2 separate regions of the Homo sapiens genome follow, and region 1 is linked to region 2. Evidence: fine-mapped expression QTL. A gene starts in region 2. The other region holds a variant in brackets. All regions are shown on one strand. Distances are between the middles of the regions. Region 1 overlaps GSTO2 (glutathione S-transferase omega 2). Region 2 holds the start of GSTO1 (glutathione S-transferase omega 1).

The links.
Region 1: its variant is fine-mapped to the expression of GSTO1 in lung (TOPMed, PIP 0.94).

Annotation. Positions count from the first base shown.
Region 1 is chr10:104,272,057-104,280,389 of GRCh38, reverse strand. GSTO2 (glutathione S-transferase omega 2) reads right to left here. Exons shown (of 7, transcript NM_183239.2): 2 at 5,441-5,705; 3 at 5,056-5,164; 4 at 2,274-2,496; 5 at 919-1,020. The coding sequence starts at 5,474. Among named protein-coding and RNA genes, the nearest start is that of GSTO2, 7.0 kb to the right of the region's middle. The variant T/C (reference allele first, on the strand shown) is at 4,293.
Region 2 is chr10:104,250,082-104,258,414 of GRCh38, reverse strand. It overlaps GSTO1 (glutathione S-transferase omega 1), which reads right to left and starts at 3,523. Exons shown (of 6, transcript NM_004832.3): 1 at 3,453-3,523; 2 at 3,144-3,252. The coding sequence starts at 3,486. All of the region lies in intron 1 of LOC124902497 (a long non-coding RNA gene), which reads left to right. RefSeq lists silencers at 2,577-2,626, 3,117-3,376 and enhancers at 3,447-3,506, 3,841-4,355.

The sequences.
Region 1 (8,333 bases), 22 kb before region 2:
TTCTTTATATTCTCCTTTTCAGAGCCTGGAACTTGGATGTGATGGCTGCAGTGACAGCAGCTATCTTGTTATTTTGAGGATGATACCCTTGTACTAAGTTGTGCTAAGGATGACAGAGCCCATAAAGAGAAAAAGCTTCAGTTCCTGATAATGTCATGAAGAAGCCATCAAGATAGGCCTGAACTGCCTACCTCTGGCTTTTTTTTTTTTTTTTTTTTTTTTTTGTCAGTCCTACTTACTCTGTCACCCAGGCTAGAGTGCAGTGGTGCAATCATGGCTCACTGCAGCTTTGACCTCCCAGACTCAAGCAATCCTCCTGCCTCAGCCTCCTAAGTAGCTGGGACTACAGGTATACATCGTTATGCCTGGCTAATTTTTAAAATTATTTTTGTAGAGGAGGGGTCTTGCTATGTTGCCTAGGCTGGTCTTAAACTTCTAGGCTCAAGTGATCCTCCTGCTTCAGCCTCCCCAAGTGCTGGGATCACAGGTGTGAGCCACCGTATGTGTGAGAATAAACCCTTATAATACGTGAGAAAGAATGTTATGTGAGAGAGTAAACCCTTACAACATGAATTTACAGTAGTTAGACTTCAGCAGCCAAACACAACCCCTAACCTTTACAGACCTTGACCTCATTGGCAGAAGCTACAGAAGCCATGCAGAGCTACTCAGGGAGATGGGGTGACTCTGGGAAAGGAAGCAATTCATGGCATGTCCTCCCCAACTCCTCATCAGATTTTCCAGAATAATTCTAGACCAGGTTAGAGGAGGGCAAACATGCAATCAGATGATCAGAAGTCTGACTTATCAAAGGCAGAAAGAATAAGCCTGTGAAAGCTGGTGTTAGAGTGACCAGGTTAGCGACCCTGCCTAGCTTCCTCCACTGTAGCTGACCAGGAGAGGGACCCCTTTTTGTACCTCTTCCAGGTTGCTGAATTCCTGACGCAGGGCTGCCTTCAGATTAGTGCATTCTCTCCCACATCTCAACGCTACCAGGCACTCCTTGGTCAAATGTGGGACCTAATCAGAGGACACAGGTTCTCAGTGGAGAAGTCTGTGGAAACTTCCAGTTCCTGTTCTGCCTGAAAAGGCAGCGAAGCTTTATAACTCCAGCCTAACAGGGCAACACCCACATCAGACCCCCCAGCTCCCTGTGAGAGGCACTAGGTTTTCTCTGTGGTTCCGGTTCTCAGTAGGAATCTACTTCTTATAGTACCCTGGGAAAGCAGGGTGCTTTAGGAGGGTTTCTCCAGTGCTCCTTACTTGATCAGCTGCTTCCATGCTATACATTCTTAGGTGGGACACTCAACCTCTCTAAGCCTCAGTGTTCTCATCTGAAAAATGGATACGATAGCAGTACCCACTTCAAAGGGCAGTTGGATTAAATGAGTTAGCTCCTACAAAGTAACTAGGACAGTGCCTGGCACATCATAAGTGTTCGATATATGTCAGCTGTTAATATCATTGAGGTTTTTAAAAATTCCTTTTCAAAGACACCATCTTAAAATTTCTCCATTCTTTTTTCTTTCATTATCAAAGCTGCCACCATTTATCTATTCTTCACATTTCCTGGACAGCAGGCACTCTTATGCTTCTAAAGAGCATCACTGGCCAGGCACAGTGGCTCACGTCTGTAATCCTAGCACTTTGGGAGGCCGAGGCAGGCAGATCACTTGAGGTCAGGAGTTCAAGACCAGCCTGGCCAATATGGTGAAACCCCATCTCTACTAAAAATACAACAATTAGGGGGTGTGGTGGCATGCGCCTGTAATCCCAGCTACTCAGGAGGCTGAGGCAGGAAAATTGCTTAAACCCAGGTGGCAGAGGTTGCAGTGAGCCGAGATGGTGCCACTGCACTCCAGCCTGGGTGACAGAGCGAGACTCCGTCTCAAAAAAAAAATAATAAAAAAGCATCACCTTCTATGCATAATCTTCGCACTCCATTACTTTTTACCTGAAGCTGGAGAAATACTCCCTTTAAGGATCACCAGTTTTCAGTTCTTTCAGTATTCCTGCTTCAAGTTACACGGTCATTGCCATGTCATAACCATACCTCCTGAGCCTGCCAGTTGAAATGGAGAAGCGCCTAGCAGTTAAGCCTTTAATATCAGTGGCCATGCTCTACCCTAATTCCATGCTAGCTAATCTCCTGAGGATCACATGGTATCAAAACAAAACAGTTTCACCAATGATTTGGCTTTAAAATGGGTTGAGGTTTGGGAAAGACATGCAAAGTAAAATACAGTGTGAGTGACTTTTTAAATTGAATATACCTTACAAAATAGCTCCAATAACATCTTTTGGCGAGCTCGTTCATAAGGGTCATATGGAAACAGCTTCCTTCCTGGATAAGCATCATCCAGGTACTCACAAGCAATAACAGATTCATAGATCAGTTGACATTGGCTGGTCTCCAGGACAGGAATGTGGCCAAAAGGGTGCTTTGTATAGTACCATTCAGGCTTGTTTCTCAGGTTAATGTTGACCACTTCATGTCTTAAAAAGCAAAAGGAAAACAAGACAGAACAAAAATGAGAGGCATCTGCAGGCAGGCACTCTTCTTGAAAGCAGAAGCAATCAGTTTAAAAGTTAAAATTTGCAATTAGTGTTTTAAGGTTTAAGTTTTGTATAAAATACATAACATCATCATCTTCCTTCCTGCAGTAAGATGTGTCGGATGTTTTCCATGCCTTATCTCAGTTGTTCCTCATAATTCCCCCTGAAGTAGGCTCACCTCATAGGAAAGAAGACTCAAGGGGGTTGAATCTCACACCCAATACCACCCACTAAGAAGTAGTAGAGCTGGCCGGGCGCGGTGCCTCACACCTGTAATCCCAGCACTTTGGGAGGCTGGGGCGGGCAGATCATCTGAGGTCAGGAATTCAAGACCTGCCTGGCCAACATGGCAAAACCCCATCTCTACTAAAAAATACAAAAAAGTAGCCAGGCATGGTGGCGGGCGCCTGTAACCCCAGCTACTTGGGAGACTGAGGCAGGAGAATTGCTTGAACCCGGGAGGTGGAGGTTGCAGTGAGCTGAGATTACACCACTGTACTCCAGCCTGGGCAAGAAACTCCATCTAAAAAAAAAAAAAAGTAGTAGAGCCAAGATCACAGCCAGGCAGACAGACTCAGAGCTCACACACTTAACCATGGCATTAGAGAGTTTAGTACATTCTACAGCTTGAAAATACAAATCTGGTATTAACAGGTCACAACAGAATATGGTAAATGTTAACAATTAAGAGTATGAGTTTTGGCATCAGAATAAACGGTCTAGCTTGGGACCTTAACCGAATTCCTAACCTCTCTGTGCTCAGTGTCCTTAATTATAAAATGGGGCTAATAATTACACCCATCTCTTGGTACTGTGGTGGGGATATGTATAAAGTGTTTAGGACAGTGCCTGGCACATAAGCATGCAATAACTTTTTTAATTCTTCTTCTAATTATTAGATGTTCAAATAATACTATTATTATTTAATGTTCACATAATACAATTATTATTTAGATAACTATATAGTTACCAGAAGCATGAACGTATGTTTAAAAACATGAAAGGAAACAAATGGGAACGTTCATTGCTTAGTCTAGGAGATTGTCTTAAACCTACAGCAGAGGCTGGATGAGGTGGCTCACACCTGTAATCTCAGCACTTTGAGAGGCCAGGGTGGGAGGATTGCTTGAGCCCAAGATTTCGAGACCAGCATAGGCCACATAGCAAGACCTAAAGCAGTGGGTCTCAACCTAAAGCAATGGGTCTCGACTAGAAGTGATTTTTGGCCTCCTTCCCAAGGGACATATCACTATGTCTGGAGACATGGTTTTGTTGTCACAACTGAAGGTAGTGCATAGGGAAGGGGGACTCTACTGTCATTGAATGGGTAGAGACCAAGGATACTGCTAAACATCCAGTGATGGACAGGACAGCTTCTATCCCACCTCTCCAACAAAGAATTATCTGGCCTAAACTGTCAACAGTGCCAAGTTTGAGAAACGCTGACCTAAGGAAATACATCAGCTCCTAAGCTGATAATTTATCACCAAATGGGCAAAACATCCAGTTGTTGTTATTTTCCTCAAAAAACAGGTAACCTTAAGGTCAGCTTAATTTGAGCAAAAGGGAAGAATGTGGAAATACAGGCCCTATATACTCAACAAGGCAGATTTACATAATTTTATTTAAAACATCTCTGTATTAGTCTTTGTATCTCTCTGACATGAGTCTGAAACTCTGAAGTCACCCCCTTGTGATGGACTCTCCGAGACAAGAGTCGGGAGCCTGGAGTGACA[T/C]ATTCTCAACACTCTAGCTTGGAGGCCAGCTGCATTATGCAGTCCACATCCCAGCAAAGCTGCTCTGCCCTCCAAATCCAGACCTGCAGGAGCTGGTTTTGCAAACTTCCTTTTGGAAGCATCTGTACCCATTTCTCAAGTTTTCAAGGTGTCTTGAAAACTTCCAGACACCTCTTGATAGCAATTCCTTCTATTTCATTGTTTGGAAAGATTTGTTCATTCATTTAACAGATGTTTTTTGAGCATCCACTATGTGACAGGCTCTCTCCTAGCTCATGAATAAAAGAGACAGAGTTCCTACCCTCGAGAACGCACATGGGTGAAGGGGACTGGGGAGGGGAGATGGATGAACAAATAAGAAAATGCTGGATGCAGTAAGTTCAATAAAGAAAGGAAACAGTGACCTAAGATGCCTGGGGTGTGGTGGGGGAACTACCTCTGTGGAGCAGTCAGGTAAGGCCTCAGTAGTGTTGGCTGTGCCCTTAAACATTCTGGGAGGGAACCAGTTCACCAGCCCCATCATTCACATTACTCTGCGCTGGGCTAGAAGTTTCATGCATAGGCGTGACTCGGAAAAGGGCTCCGCATTTCAGTAGGGCCCGCTAAAAAAAAGCTCGCCCTTTGCTATTTGTTGACTTTGCCTCCGAAAAAAGGGACAGGGAGCCCCTTGTAAAAGCTGAGCAGGGCGCCCCAGATGTTAAACATTCCCGGGCTCCTGTGAGGCGCTGGGTTTGCTCGGGGGCTCTGGGTTCCCGCTTCTCACCTGATGTCTTTGGCCTTGAGGACGAGGCGGGTCCTGTGAGAATAGGGGCAGAACCTCATGCTGTAGATGCGGATCAGCCCCTCCGGGACTGGCCCTGGGGGCTGGCTTCCTGCAGAGCAGCGATGGAGGGGGACAGGGAAAGGAGAGGCTAGTCAGCCCGGTGAGGAAGGAGCTCGCTCACTTGCCCAGATCCCAAGATGGCTGTGGGAGCTCCAACTCCCAAGTCCCAGAGAGGGCAGTGCTGCATGTGGCTTTTCTTCAGGAGAGCCCTCCAAGTCCCTTCCTGCCCCGCCGGTCTGCAGGCCAAGGCCAGGCAGCTCCGCCGAAGCCAACATTTTCTGTCACGCGGCGCCCCCAGCTCGCGGACCCCATGGAGAGCACTCACCTTTCCCCAGGGTCCTGGTCGCATCCCCAGACATGGTCTCCAGGTGGTTTGCGCAGCTCCCGGAGCTCACGGTCGCCGCCCTGTGGCTCGCCACCGCTGCCGCAGGCTCCAGAAACAGCTGCGCTCTGGCGCGCACCCCTTGCCCCAAATTTAATTTTTGAACTACTGGGCTCTGGCGGGGCACGGGGAAGCGATCTGGAGCAGGAGCTAGGGTAATTTAACCTGGGGAGACATCGCCCCAGATTTGGAAGCCCGAGAGTAGGAGCTGGCAAAAAACAAAACAAGACAAAATAACACCAGAAAAGCTCCCCCTTGCTCTGGACATGTGCTTAAAGCTTTGGAGGGGCCTCCTCTACATCAAGAATCCCTCAAGAATGGGCATTTAAACTCCAACATGGATTTCAAAGGAGTTTAATCAAAACTGACTAGGGTAAAGCTGACTTTTTTTTTCCCATTCTGAATCTCTTGCATCACTAAACTGGCCACTCTTTGGTAAGTAAGTACAGCTTTAAAAAATAATAAGGCCAAACATTCTCATGATACAGCAACTAGGAAAGAAAAAGTCATTGGTGTTGAAATCTCACATACCCCAGAGAGTGAGTGCCTCCTAGACACCTAGACAACTTTGGTGTCTAGACAACTCACATTTTGCACCCTAGACACCTCAGTTGCCTCATCCCAGTCCTGGCCCTACTTGTGAGATTTTACCCAAGCTCTGAAAAACTGGCAATGAATAAAATTAAGATACCTGGAGGCAAAGAACAATTTGTGAGCTTCCCCCGTTCCCCAGCATAAATTTTTGAGAACACTCTTACTAGTTGCCAAGGATACATTGCCAACAGCCCAGCCATATAGGGGCGACTTGCACAGCTTTTCTGTTTACGTGAGATAATAGACGTGGCTTTGGCTCTGATGCTGATAAGCTGAGATCCTGAATTTCAGCAGGTAAAAAAATAATTCCTTAAATTTTCCAGAATTGAGCTGATGTGGGAATTGCTTGTAAATGCATTTTGTAGGATTAACAGATCATGAAGGAAAGAAAAATATTTTCTGTGTCTCACTCATACTGACTAAATTATTTCCATAGATTACCTTGATTCCTACAATTGCTCAGTCAGGCAACTCATATTATTTCTACTTTTCAAAACAGAAAACAGCTTCAGAAAAATGAAATTATTTGCCCAAAGTGACCAGCTAGTAGGGTTGAAGAACTTTAAAAGTCCAAAGCTTGACTCGTTGTCTTGACCTTTAAAACTGGTAATAGTGTTAGGAGGAAAGGATTTTAAGTCCAGGAAAAGATATAGCACGTAATGGCTGCTCAACAAATAATACTTGAATCTAAATATCTTTTATTAAAATGACAGAGCCTAATTATGTAGCTTATAACTGGGTACTGTTTGGCCTTTGGAATTCCAGTCTATCCAGAACTTCTTGGTTAATAATAGTGTTAACATTTTTTGCTAGTGAATAAGAATCTTTGCAAATCTTCAGAATAGTGACTCAACTACATTTTTTGCTGTCATTCAATGATTTCATGTGAAATAAGCTTAGATAATAATATGGAAAGTATTAACATTTTATAAGAATCAGGGAATGGCAAAAATGTTTGAATAAATGTTCTCTGAAAATAAAATGCATATATGTCAGCAAGAAATCTGGTGTTGGAGAAGACATATTGGTTCCCGGCTTGCTACGCTGACAACTTTTCATTTAAGAAGACAGAGAAAGTAACAGAGTAACTTCTACTACTTTGGAGCTAATTCTGATCAAGAAGGACAAATTGGATGGTAAAATAGAAGCAAGAAACACAACCATGTCATCTTAGAGCTCCTGGTAGGTAAGATGACTTCTGGGCATACACATGCATCCCTCATATAAAAAAAGCAGATTTCAAGATAGTTGAGAAAAATATATCCATAGCCTAAAAAAGGCCATAAGAGGGTTGCAAAATCTCAAAATCAAAATAAATTATTACTAATATATATTTGGTGCTTCATGTGTATTGACCCAGTTAATTCTTAAAATAGTCCAATAACTGGGCCGGGTGCGGTGGCTCATGCCTGTAATCCCAGCACTTTGGGAGGCCGAGGCGGGCGGATCACGAGGTCAGGAGATTGAGGCCATCCTGGCTAACGTGGTGAAACCCCGTCTCTACTAAAAACACAAAAATTAGCCGGGCGCGGTGGCAGGCGCCTGTAGTCCCAGCTACTCAGGAGGCTGAGGCAGGAGAACGGCGTGAACCCGGGAGGCGGAGCTTGCTGTGAGCCGAGACTGCGCCACTGCACTCCAGCCTGGGCGACAGAGCGAGACTCCGTCTCAAAAAAAAAAAAAAAAAAAAAAAAAAAAAAAAAAAAAAAAAAAAGTCCCATAACTGTTCTATTTTGATTCACTTTAAAAGATGAGTAAACTGAGACTAGCATAGTTAAGCACTTCTCAACTAGTAAGTGAAAGAGGGAGGACTAGGAACCCTGGAAGTTTGACTCCAGCGGCAACAATCTCAACCAGTATCTTAGTCTTTATCAGATGCCATGAACTGAATGATTGGCAAATGTTTTTACATATATTAAATATTTCAGGCTTTTCAGGCCATCTGGTCTCCACTATTTAGTTCTACACTTGTAGTGTAAAAACAGCCATCGATGATAAATAAACAAATGGGTGTGGCTGTATTTATGGACACACTGAATTTGAACTGCATATATGTATTTTAATAGCCTTTTTTTAAAAAAAAGTTTTAGATTCACAGCAAAATTGAGCAGAAAATACACATTTCCCATATACCCTGTGCCCCCGCACATGCACAGTCTCTTCCACTATCAATATTCCAATCAGAGAGGTACATTTATTACAATCAATGAACCCACATTGACATATTATCACCCAACATCCATAG
Region 2 (8,333 bases):
AAGCTTGTTTGCTGTAGTCTCATGTGTTTATTTTTGGTCTTGTTGCCTGGTCTTTGGTGTCATGTCCAGGAAATCATTGCCAAGGCCAGTGTCATGAAGCTTTTCCCCTATGTTTTCTTTTACACGTTGGCGGTTTTTATATTCCTTGAATTTGCCAAATGTGTTTCCACCTTAGAGTCTTTGCACTTGATGGTCCTCTGCCTCCTCTGCCTGCCTTTTCCCAGGTCTTCCCAGGTCAAACACACATCCCCAGGCCCTCCCTGACCATAGCTCTGAAGTTGCTGAGCAGCTTCTATTACATGATTATCATGTTTTACTTTCTTCATTGAACTGATAATATGTATCTGAAATTACTTTGCTCACTTATTTACAAGTTTGTTATCTTCCTAGAATGTAAGCTTCACGAAAGGTGGGATCTTGTGTATCTGTTCATAGTAATAAACAAACATGTAAATGAGCAAAATGCTATATAGATATAAATGCTCTGAAGAAAATAAAAAGTTTCAAATAAGGACTCAGTAAATATTTTTGTTTTGAAATATTTCATATAAATGAATGAATAAATCTGTGGAAATGCTTCAAAATTGTCAATAAGATACTCCATTTATGGCTAAGAGGTATCTTAGTTATAAATCATATGAGGCAACTAATTGAATTGTGTCCACTATCCACTATATGAGAACCAACATAAAATTCAATTTATTTTGCTAATTTGAGTAAAAAGTTTCTTGGTTTTTATGAAGATATTAAGGAATCCTTAAAATCCACCCACAAGGCCAGGCTTGGTAGCTTACATCTGTAATCCCAGAACCTTGGGAGACTGCAGTGGGCGGATTGCTTAAACCCAGGAGTTCAAGACCAGCCTGGGCAACATGATGAAACCCTATCTCTACAAAAAATATAAAAATTAGCCAAGTGTGGTGGTACTCACCTGTAGTCTCGGCTACTCCGGATGCTGAGGTGAGAAGATTGCTTGAGCCCTGGAGGCAGAGGTTGCAGTGAGCCATGATTGCACCACTGCATTCCAGCCTGGGTGACAGGGCGAGACCCTGTCTCGAAAAAAAAAAAAAAATCCACCCACAAAATAAGCTTTCAGATTAAATCTCCATGTACTGATTTTTTAAAAAATGTTGTCTGAGTAAATCATACAAAGTAAACCAAAAAGGAAGAAAACAGGTGAAGTCCAGGCTATAGTCAGATTGTATTTAGGTCTATCTTGTATGTTGCCTGAGACTGTAGAGGAACTAAGAGAAAGGAGCTAGGTCCATATGATTGTCAAGGCTGAATAAATGTTCAATAGAACAGATTACTAAAAAAAAAATAGACACCAATACCTTTTGTTTTCTATTTTCCCATCCACAGCTGTAGCTAGAACAGCATTTCATTTGAGGATTTAAATACATAATCCCCCATGTAAACAAAGGAACATCCAATTTGAACATGAGCACAGGTGTGCATGTAATTTAAAAGGTTCATGTGCTGACAATACTGGACACTTAAGTACCAGCCATTGCAAAAAAAAAAAAAATTATTTGGCTCCTTGCCAAAGAATTATCAACATTTTTGAACTATAAAACAAAAACTTTTGTTACTATGAAAACAAAAAGATCCTGGGCTTTTGTTATTTAAAAAAAAAAAAGTATGTCAGAACACACATGAATTTTGGTAAGCTGGCATTGTGAGCCAACAAGTCTACACACCTGCCACAGCAAGTTGGAAGATGCATCTTTTAGAGAAAACCATGCTTTGTTAAGTCATATCATGTGGTTAAAATCTAGTACTTTCCCAGTAAAAGCCTCCTCGGGCTCAAGCTTAAAACTGGTCTATTAATGTAGTAGACCTTTGTTGTTTGCACTGTCTGGAAGCTGTTAACCACTCTCTTCCTCCCCTCTACCCCACACTATTAGGGGAAGATAGTTTCAATGTTCCTTTGGAAAACTGCCCCAGTAAATAAGGTAGGGTTGTTTTCAAACTAAAGGTCCAGGGTGAAGCACATAACCCAGGACTTTGTGCCTCTGAATCCAGCTGTGTCATGCTCCTGGACTTTTCAAATAAATGAGTACCAAAAAATGTCTTTTTTCAATTTTGGTTACATTAGATTTCTCTTAGTACAATAAAAGAGTTCTATCACAGCAAATATGACAGTGTTTTTGAGAAACATTATGAAATAGTAAGTACTCTATGTGTTCAGAATCATAATCTCATCCAAATGAGATGCATTTCTTAGTGAAGTAATGACAAATCCCCTTCAAATGTATTTTTTAAATGCATTTTACCTTTCTTTTAGGGAAAATAATTGCCTACCCCTAAAGATTATCCCCTTAGAAGACTAAAATTAGTTCACAAACACTAAGCACACAGACAGAAAATTCCTTAAGAATAGGGGGTTTGTTTTAAACTTCCACAGAACCTTCCACACCAAAGGTATCTAATAAATGTCTAATCAACAGACATCCAAAGGTCATGGGAAGGGAAGTGGTTCCAATGGATACTTGGTGTCAGAGAAAAGTCAAGTGACTGTTGCACATATCCTGTGGATAGCCCGTAAGTCAAAAACTATGCTAGTTTCAAAACAGGCTCTGCAGAAGGATGAGCTAGACAGACACTTCCCTCTATTTGACTCAACCAACAGCCCAATCCACAGGAATATGTGCAGTAAACTCAGCACTACCCTAGGAGGGTCAGGGTCTAAACTCTGCTGTACTGGGGTAAATTACTATTCTAGGAGGGAACAATACATTCAGAATAACAACTAACAGTTAAGCTGGAATAAGAACGGGAAATCACAATAGGGCGAAAGCGAAAGGACTCTGGACCAGGAATTCGTGACCTACCAAAGCTAAAAGAGCTGCTGCCGGTTATTACCGGGCAAATCACTAACATCACTGGAGCCTCAGCTTTTCTAATCCATTAAATGGTTGGTTAATCTAAATGAGGTGTCCTAGACCGTTGGAATCTGTGGCCTATTTTTCCTAGGGGAATGGCCTATAACTTGCTATTTTCCAAAGGGCCGAGAATAGTTTAATGTGCAGTAAAGGACGCTGGTGGGAGGGGGGTAGAAGGGGGCTGAGACCCCACCCCACCCCGCCGCCTGCAGCAGGCTCCCGGACGGCTCGGGGAGCGTCCCCCGCCTGGGTGCCCACCTGATTCCCTTGGCCTTCAGGACTAGACGCGTCCTCTCAGCAAACGGGCAGAACCTCATGCTGTAGATGCGGATCGAGCCCTCCGGGACCGGCCCCGGGGGCGCGCTTCCTGCCGGGGAGAAGCGAAGGCGATTACGGCCCAGAGAGGTGTCGAGACCCCCCGTATCCCACCGCCCCCGCGTCCCACTGCAGCTCCGACCCGTTCCCCGCCGGTGGGGCGCTCCCGGGCGGCTGGGCTCCCGGAGCAGCCTCGAACATGCCGCCGGGGGTCGCCGAGATCACCCCCTCTTCGCGGCGGGCAGGCCTCACCCTTCCCCAAGCTCCTGGCTGACTCCCCGGACATCGTGGCGCAGCGCAGGCCGAGCTCCTCTGGGGTTTGCAGGGGATTCAGGAAGTAGGTGGCGCGTCCTTCCCGCCCTCCTTCCCTCCCCCGCTTCCTCCTTAGCTCAAAAGTGCCTGCCCCCGGCGGCCGCCAGCTCCACCCGTTGTGCCTTCCCGGCTTTATGGGATAGCCCTTAAAACATCTTAAGGGGCTGTGTCAAAGCATCTCGCTGGCCAAGGGCTGCACCCACGGGGAGATACACAAAAGTTATAAATGCTCAGTCATCCCTCCGCCCCCGAACGAAGGGGTCACCACTCCGCACTCCACGGGGCTCCACGTCTGACCCTGACCCTGACCTCCCTCCCGTGACACTGACCTCGAAGCACCACCCGCTCCGTCCCAAGGCTTCACGACTTCAGAGCCTGTGGCCCGACCTCATGGCTCACTCACCGGTCCAGAGCGTTCTCTCCAAAGGCTCCTGTTCAGCTTGTGAAGGGAAAATAAAAATCTCTTGACTCCAAACTCACTATGCCAAAGGGAAGAGTCAAGCTTGGAAACTGAGTCAGGCAACACTGCCTCCCATTTTGTTGCTAAATAGCTACAAAGATCAAAGGCCACACACCTCCCCAAGGAAATTCCTTGTTGGCCCGCAAGATCTTTACTCTAAAACAGATCAGTTGAATTTCATCTTGGCAATGTAAACTAACAGCTTATCTTCCCAAGTATGGGACAAAGACAGGTCTAGGAGTCATCCTTCCTCTCGCTGGAGAAAAATGCAATTTGACCGCTTCCTCTACCCTATATTTAATCTTGTAAAAATGCAGATTCACCAAGCACTAGACGAATGCATAACTGACTATTCCTCTACGACCTCCTTTCACGAATGTAACATGCGCATTCAGTGAATGCTGATCAAAGGCCCCAAAGAATGCAACTACTCTCCCCTTTTATCTACCTTCCCTTTTTACTTTCCACTTTCCCCTACTGCCTGCTCTTTCCCTTTAAATATTGAAGTCCTCAAGCCCTCTTTGGAAAGAGCACAGATCACAGATGTTCCTGTGATTTTGTGTTCCTTTTTCTCAGATGTGTCCTCAACCTTGGCAAAATAAACCTCTAAAAGGATTGAGACTCACCTTGGTCATTTCCTTTGATTTACAAGCTCATCTATGCCTCGCTGCAGGGTTGCCCAGCCACCTGGACAGGCTTTTCCTTTTTCTGTCAGTACTAGCTTAACGTGACTACTGGGAGGGCCTCTGTCCCTACCGTCACCTGTAGGATACATCCTTTTCATTTTAACCCATAGGAGACAGCACAAACCTGGATATTATCAACCTCAGAATAATGGTGCTGCTTTCAAAACTCTCCCACTTATTAAACATTTGTGTTTTGGAGCCCTGGTAATATAACAGTACTCCCATTTTTCTAAGAGATAGAGGATGAGTTATTTTTTACATTATTTATTTCTCCCATCTTCTCTGTTTCCTCCTTTCTCCCTGTTCCCCACTTCCTACTTAGCTCTTTAGAAATGCAATTATCATCTTTTACCTTCCCTTCACCTGACACTCCCTACAGGGCAAGCTTATCTAACTGGGTGTTTACTTAAAAGCTCCAGAGCAGGACTCTCACCCCCCAGGAGACTGCCTCCAGAGATAACAGTCCATTTACATCCAAAAGTATGCCTGAGACAAGGCCACTTTACAAATGACTTCTGCCCATGATGGCACAACCCAGCAGATAAAGCACCAAAGTGAGTCATGCGAACCCCCACCCACTCGCTCCCTCCCCAGCATGCAGTTCATACCAACTGCCCCCTTTAAAAGCCCCTGCTTTCTGCCCCAGAAGCAAAGTGGTACCCTTAAGGCAGGAAGCCTGTTTTGCTCCCCCTAAGCTAGCTTTGGAATAAAAAATCACTTTCTTTATACCAGACTTTGCTCTTCTTATTAATAATTGGACTCTGAAAGCGGGAAGCAACTGAACCTGCATTTCAGTTACAATAAGGGCACAGGCTCAGAATCAAGCAGGTGGCATGAGTGAATTTAGTTTTGGGTCTGGGAATAAAGGTCTGGCCAGAGAGTCCTCTCAAACAGCTCTTTTAACTTAGGGGTCAGGAAAGAGGGGTTCCAGGGCCATCATACAGATGAGGAAAAAGACTATTCAATGATTTCCTTGTTTGCCTAGATTTGAAAGCTGGTAACTCCTGTGCCATTTATTGGGGTGAGATTGGGGTAGATGTCTATTTTTATTTTGATTAGCCCTATTATGGGAGGAGCAGAGAATGAGGTGAAAAGCACCAAGTGTTGGAGCACCCTGCCTGTTTTGATCCTGGCTCCACCCCTGTATTCAGTTGCTAGGACTAGGGTAACAAAGTACTGCAGAGTGGCTTAAATAACAGAAGTGTGTTGCCTCACAGTTCTAGAGGCTACAAGTCCAAGATGAAGGTGTCAGCAGGGTTGCTGCCTTCTGAGGAGGGAGTCTGTGAGGGAGTCTGTTCCATGCCTCTCTCCCAGCTTCTAGTGGTTTGAGGGAATCTTTGGTGTCCCTTGGAGTGCAGAAGCACCACCCACCCCATCTGTGCCTTCATCTTCATTCACACTCCAGTATGACCTCATTTTAATTTAGTTACATCTGCAACAACCCTATTTCCAAATAAGGTCACATACTGGGGCACTGGGGATTAGAACATCAATGTATGAAATTGGGGGAGCACAATTCAACCCGTAACAACCACTTATTAACTGTGAACATGGGGAAGTCACTAACCTCAGTGTGTTTCAGTTTCCTCACCTGTAAAATAAGATGGAACACATGTTATTCCTCCTGCATAGATGTTACGGGAAAGGGGTCCTGATCCAGACCCAAGAGAGGGTTCTTGGATCTCGCATAAGAAAGAATTCAGAGCGAGTCCACCGTGCAAAACAAAAGCAAGTTTATTAAGAAAGTAAAGTGGTGAAAAAACAGCTACTCCATAGACAGAGTAGGGTGTTCCCGAAAGTAAGAGGACGAAGGCGTCCACCCCAGGTTCAATGCCTGTATATATAGGATGAAAAAAAGATATGGGGAGATGTGCTCTTTTTGTGATAAAGGGTTAATTTTCATAATTACTATGTTTTGCAAGAATCAATATTATTATCTTTAAAGCAAAATTAGGAATGCCTTTGTTCTCAAGATATCGGGATATCTGGACACTCCTAAGTCTGGGTCTGTTTAGTAAACATTATCAATCTATTCCCTTAACCATAAACATCTAGAGGCTAGGAATACCTAACTTTCTGGGAATGCGGCCCAGCAAGTCCCAGCCGCATCTTCCTAGCCCTCACTCAAGATGGAGTCGCTCTGGTTCAAACGTCTCTGACATAGAGTCTGTGGCAGGATTAAATTAGTTACTATACAGAAAGCACTCAGAGCAGTGCTTGGCATAGAATATGTTAAATAAATGTGATCACTACATATTTTGATTTAATTTAGTAAATAGGCAAGAAATAGATATAAATTTTTAAAAATCGACCACATTTTTGCTAAAATATGGGCACTGCTTAACTCTTTTTAAGGATATTGACTTTTTAGCACATTAATGACTTCATGCAAATAACCTTGTAAATTGAAACTTGGCAAGGTAAAACTTCTGAATGGCCAAAAAAAAATTTCACATCAAGGTATTACTTTAAAAGTTTTACTTGGAATGCCCTGTCCCCTAATTTAGTATGAATAATGTAATATTTTATTGCAATGATTTGAAAGATCCACCTCATCAATAAATAAAGTAAAAGGTTAATTCCTCAAAGAAAGAAATTGAAAATATACTCTCCCAGTGAACTACCGTACTATATTACTGGTGTGCATTACAATAGGTCCTCTCCAAGTCCTTTGTGGTTGTGTAAACATCTGAATATACACCTGAGGAAAGAATAGAACTTTCATCTGAGGAATGTGAGCCATTTCAAATTATTAGGCCCAAAGAGACATTAAAATGAGACAGCAATCATGCCCCACTCCCCGCTTCGAGCTATGTATTCACCTCTTGAAACTGCTTGTTATAGCCACAAGTAGCTATAAATTAACCTAATAATGCTACAGCAAATATAACCCACAGTCTATAGCTTAACAATGTGTAGCCAGCTACTAATCAATGTTATTTCTGTAAACCAATGAGAATTCCTGACAGACAACTCTATGTCAGCCCACTTCCTGAAGCCCCTTTTTGCCTTTAGAAATCCACTTGTAACTGCTGCTAATGAGAGTATCTATTCAGAGCAACTTGAACCTATACTCCTGGGTTGCAACCCTCAACCTTGGCTCAAATTACCTAATTGCATTAATTTTGGTTCACCCTCTTCCTTTTATGTTGACATGCTGCCCATAGCCACAGTTAAAAGGAAACAATACATGCGTTTTTACAACTACATTTCTTAATAACCTAAGAGACTAATCTGAGAGGATTCTGCTGGTTAAAGATCAAGAGTTCATGCCATTGCACTCCAGCCTGGGCAACAGAGTGAGTGAGACTTTGTCTCAAAAAAAAAAAAAAAAAAGAAGAAGCTTGAATAGAAAAAAAATTGAGGGGATATTAAAAGTCCATTGAAAGAAGAATGGATAAATTGTGTTGTATTCATATAATGGACATCTACCCAACAATGAAAACAAATAGTCTACAGCTATAGTTATCAACTTAAATCCCTCTCAAAAACATGATATTGAGCCAGAATAGCAAGTCACAATAATATATATGGTATGATTCTACATGTGTTAACTTTAAAAACAGGCAAAGTGAAACAGCACATTAGTTATGGCTCATGCATACATGGTAGAATTGAAAAGCAGGGAACAATAATCACAGAATTCAGGATGGTAGCTACATCCAGGGGAAAGGA